Linked DNA regions of Homo sapiens: region 1 is linked to region 2. A link means that fine-mapping ties the variant in region 2 to the expression of a gene that starts in the linked region. Tissue or cell type: whole blood. Region 2 holds a variant in brackets; the other region holds the start of a gene. All regions are shown on one strand. Distances are from middle to middle.

Region 1 (2,744 bases), 81 kb after region 2:
CATGAAGCGGCCACACCGCAACAGAGTTTGAAACCATGCCTGGTGCAGACTCCCCTCTCCAGCTGCCGCGCCTCCTGCCTTGGTAGAGGGCCGTCCGCAGCCCCGCGACGCCTTACAGAGGCGAACACCGTGCGTCTTCCCAGCCCGGAGCTCCAGGATCGGCTCTATTTGGCCGTCCTCTGCTTTGCTGCAGTTGGGATGAGGAATAAAATTGCGAATGGCCAGGGGTGGAGGCAGACCGGGGAGCTGCGCAGGTGTCATCAAAGGTGGGCCTCTAAATTCCAGCCCCCACTCCCTCAACCCACCCCCAACCCCCCCCACCCCCGCGTCGCGGGCGCACCAGAAGGATAAGCCTGGCATGGCCCTCTCCAGAGCCAGGGACGCACAGATATCAAACCCACCGGAACAAATGCGCGAAATTCAACCTATGCCGCACTCAGAAGAGAGGGACTCGAGAACCACAGAAAATTCTGAGTGTAGGAAAACTGATCAGAGAAGGAAATATTCATCTCGAAAGAGGTCCAGCCTCGGAGACGCAAGACCTGTCCGCTATAGAGCTGTGTTGACTCGGGCAGGTCACTGAGCCTCCCTTGCCTGGGTTTCCCTCACCCACAAAACGTTGATGCGAACATCTAAAGCGCCCGGCTGGACACGCAAGGCTCGGACAGTGGTCACTCCGCGAACGCACTCTGTGACCTGGAGCACACAGGTCCCCCGCTGAGTGTCAGTTTCCCAGATCGGTAAAAACAAGGGAAATGGCTTCAACTCCCTAAAGTCCCTTCTAACTCAGGCACTGAACATATGAAGGTTAAGCCAAGCAGCTTCAGGGCGCTGTTAATATTTTGATAAGAGCAGGTGAAATTAAACTCTTAAGGAAGAGAGGGAAGAAGAAACTTCAAATAAATGTGCCCAAGTTCCTGGTCCGGTACTCCCTGGCGGATCCGTCCCCCGAAAGCTCGCGAAAATGGCTGGCGAGACCCCAGAGGCTCTCTCGGACGCCCTTGGGCTGGCGGAGGGCAAAGGCCAGGGCACTGAGTCGCTTGGAGCCTGCGGGCTGCGCCCCCGCGGGAAAGGGGAACCCGAGGGCACGGAGAGGAGAGCGAGCAAGGAGCGCCGCGGTGCTAGGTGAAAGCCCAGCCGCGGAAGTCGGCTCGGGGTCCGAAAGCGCTGCTTCGCGGGGTTCGGAGGGAAACCATCCCAAGGAGGTGCAGAGAGGCCGGCTCTCCAGCACCCGACGCGCGCCTTACTTGGGGCTTGAGCTCGCAGTTGGCGGTGCCGGGCGCCCCGCGCCGCGAAGCTGCGCCCGTGGGCAGGAGGCAGAGGGTCTGCAGCAGGAACCAGCTCCAGGGACTCATCCTCCTCAAGGCGGCTCCGAGGCCCGGAACGCGGAGGGAAGGAGTAGGGCAGAGGTGGCCGCCCGCCCTGGCTAGCCGGGGCCGCGGGGCGCCTCCGGGCGGGGCTGGGGTGAGCCCGGCAGCAGCGGCCACGTGGGGCCGGGCCTCGACCTCCCTCCCCCCACCCCACCCCCGCAGGTCAGCCCCGCGCCTAGGCGGCAGCGGAGTCCCGAACCGCGTTTCTCCCGCCCAAACCCTGCCGGGGCCGCCGCCCACCTCGTGTGACCGCAAGAGGGGTAAAGTGAAGTTCCAGCGCTGTCCTAAATTCAACCTAAAATCGCATTGGTTCCTGCGTTTACGTCTGTGCTTATGCTGCCGATTGTGAGGGGAGGGTGCCTCTTGATTGAAAGAGGCAGACAAAATAAACAAATGAAAGGCTATCTATAAAGGAAAGTTCATTTAAACAAAGGAAATCTCACGGAAGTTTTGAATGTAAAAGAGAGAGGGGAATGGTCAGTGTGTGCATCCACTGAAAATCCAGGACCACAAAAGCTGGCACTCCATTAAGAGCCCTCTTAATGGATTTTTAGGAATAATATTAAGGATGTTAACACCGAACTCAGAGGATTGCCGCAAGGATTAAAAGAGGAAATTTATGAGAAACACCTTGATTGGCACACATAGCAAGCCTGCAAACTGCAGTCGCTCCCTTTCGGCTCCAAAACCCCACTGAGGATTTTTCACAGCATTGGTCCATCAGGAAGAAAAAAAAATTATGAAAGCAAGTAGCTGTGCCCCGCCTGCCGCACCTCCTACCCATGCCTGAGCGCACTTTACCACCACCTTTTAAAGTCCAGACGTCTGCGCCATTAACTTCGGAGTGGTGTTCGCAGGAGCATTTGTCGCAGTGGTCTTTAATTGCTTTAAGTCGCTGTCCATTTTGAGAATCTGATAACTGGACGATCTCCCAGGGAAAAAGAAAAGGGGGGGGGCAGATTTGCATACAATGCGGGGAGAGGTTTTCTGAAGCCCATTTCCAACTTTCCCGTAAAGAACCCCTGGCTTTGAAGAGCCAAGTCTTTCGAGATTTAACTCCACCAACATTTAGAGTTCAGATGTTTTTGTAAAATCGCTTTTTTCTAAGTTTGAGTGGGGATTTGCTTTCTGGAATTGACTGTCTCCTGTCTTCAGATGACTGCCCCGTGTCAGCCCGGCGGCAATCGTTAGTCTCCGGGCCAACCCAGGACGATGCTTTTTGGCGTTTTCAGGCACCAGCGCTGCCACCTGCTGGCAAAAACTTTCTCTTTCGGTTGTGAGGGGGAAAAGCAAAAAGCATCAAGAACGTAAGTTGCCCTGAGCTAAGATCGAACCACTGCACTCCAGCCTGGGCCACAAAGTGAGACCCTGTCT
Region 2 (2,500 bases):
ACAGGCCCCACCACCACTGCTACAGGCCCAAAGTGCATCTATTCCATGCACCCCTTTGCCTGCTGGCCCCTCCCAAGACCACCTCTGAGGCCGCTCCTGTGGGAGAGTGCCCACAGCACAGCCTCCACGGCCCTGCCTGAGTGTTTTATTGGCAGCCCAGGAGTAGTTCACCACCCCCATCACAGCCAGTGCTTGACCCCTAGGGGCCAGGGGAAAAATCCACAGTTCTGGTCCCAACTCCCCAGGACTCAAGCACACCACCCAGGGATATCAAGTTGATATCTGTGGCCTGAGCTCGAGTAGGGGAACACAAGGAAGAATATGGCATAGGTTTGTATGCCAGCAAGGGAGCTGGTCACTCCTCTTTTTTTCTTTCCTTTTTTTTTTTTTTTTTGAGACGGAGTCTCGCTCTGTCATTCAGGCTAGAGTGCAGTGGCACAATCTCAGCTCACTGCAACCTCCACCTCCCAGGTTTGAGCAGTTCTCCTGCCTCAGCCTCCCAAGTAGCTGGGATTACAGGTGGCTGTCATCATGCCCAGCTAATTTTTGTGTTTTTAGTAGAGACAGGGTTTCACCATGTTGACCAGGCTGGTCTCGAATTCCTGACCTCAGGCGATCCACCTGCCTCGGCCTCCCAAAGTGCTGGGATTACAGGCATGAGCCACTGCGCCCAGCCCACCCCTCTTTTTCCAGGATGAGCATGGCCTAACAGCCACCACTTTTCCCTTACTGAGTTCCATAGCCCAGAATGCCTGGGCTGGCTCAGTGATCTGGACAAAAATGGCTTGGGACAAGCCTAGCTGGTTGGGCCTGCTACTTGGGCAGAGACTGGAGGGAGACCCACCAGGTCAGGGAACATGAGCTGGGCAGGCCCCACAACCATCCGCTGGGCTGAGAAGCCTAGGCAGCAGGTGCCATATTGGTTGTACACTGGCAGTGCCACTAACCTGTCCAGGGAGTCTCCACCTTTGAACAACTGCATCACCAAACCACCTGCAGACATACTCCACAACTCACTCTAACTTTGGCAAGCACAGGGGATAGGCAGTTACCTAAGGAGTAAATGGTCTTCTAGAGACAGTCTTTGGTGCAAAGCACCCCTAAGAAAGGAGGGAGCGCACTCCACCAAAGCCCCACTTGGGAAAAAGGAAATGGGGGTGTGATGCCAGCCACTAAAAGAGACACCACCAAGGCCTAGGAATGGACTTAAAGAGGGAGCGTCTCTCATTTTCCACCCTCACCCACATTCCCATTGGAGCCCTTCCTGTTGGGGCCTGGTAAGTGTGTGTACTTCAGTAAGCTGCTTTTCTGTGATTCTCCATTGGACCCACCCTGCTGAAAGTAACTGTGAGTTGGAGGAGCATGCTTCTCTGTTGCCTCCACCCCCACTGAGGGCTATTGCAGCTAAGAGCCTATGTGCTGGCTCTTTTAAGCCAGGACTACAGCCTGAATTACAATACCAAACAAAAATAACATTGCTACAAGCAATGCCTGTCAAACA[C/T]ACTGCACAAACCTCTATGTAACCAAAGAACCCATATAGAGCCTTGCCCCTCTGAAAGCACCCAGAAACAAAGCCAATTGATTGTACACAACATACACCACAGTCATATCCTCCAGGAAAAAAAAGAATAAAATGTCAAAAAACTCCATCCAAACAAGCAAATTCAAAAAGATAAAGAGGCATCAATTCCTTCAGATAAGAAGAAATCAGCACAAGAACTTCAGCAATACAAAAAGCCAGAGTGCTTTGTTACCTCCAAAGGATCACACTAGTTCCCTAGCAATGGATCCTATTCAGATTGAAATGTCTGAAATAATAGATACAGAATTCAGAATATGTATGACAAGGAAACTCAATGAGATCCAAGAGAAAGTTGAAATCCAATGCAAAGAAGCCAGAGAAATAATCCAAGGTTTGAAAGATGATACAGCTATATTAAGAAAGAACCAAACAGAGCTTCTGAAATTGAAAATCTCACTACGGGAGTATCAAAATGAAACTGGAAGTCTTAACAACAGATTAGACCAAGCAGAAGAATGAATTTCAGAGCTCAAAGTTTGGTCCTTTGAATCAACCCAGTCAGAAAAAAATAAAGAAAAGAGAATTTTTTAAAAAATGAGCAAAGGCTCTGAGAAATATGAGATTATGTAAAGTGACTAAATCTACCATTTATTATCATTCCTTGGAGAGAAAAGAAAGTATTATTCACAATAGCAAAGACTTGGAACCAACCCAAATGTCCAACAATGATAGACTGGATTAAGAAAATGTGGCACATATTCACCATGGAATACTATGCAGCCATAAAACATGATGAGTTCATGTCCTTTGTAGGGACATGGATGAAATTGGAAATCATCATTCTCAGTAAACTATCGCAAGAACAAAAAACCAAACACCCCATATTCTCACTCATAGGTGGGAATTGAACAATGAGATCACATGGACACAGGAAGGGGAATATCACACTCTGGGGACTGTGGTGGGGTGGGGGGAGGG

Evidence for each region. PIP is the estimated chance that this variant, and not a neighbour inherited with it, causes the effect.
Region 1: TRABD2A starts here. The variant in region 2 is fine-mapped to the expression of TRABD2A in whole blood (INTERVAL, PIP above 0.99).

Annotation. Positions count from the first base shown.
Region 1 is chr2:84,879,685-84,882,428 of GRCh38, forward strand. It overlaps TRABD2A (TraB domain containing 2A), which reads right to left and starts at 1,400. Exons shown (of 7, transcript NM_001277053.2): 1 at 1,248-1,400. The coding sequence starts at 1,355. RefSeq lists enhancers at 642-1,144, 1,145-1,645 and a silencer at 1,375-1,504.
Region 2 is chr2:84,798,612-84,801,111 of GRCh38, forward strand. The region is part of intron 70 of DNAH6 (dynein axonemal heavy chain 6); the gene reads left to right. Among named protein-coding and RNA genes, the nearest start is that of TRABD2A, 81 kb to the right of the region's middle. The variant C/T (reference allele first, on the strand shown) is at 1,502.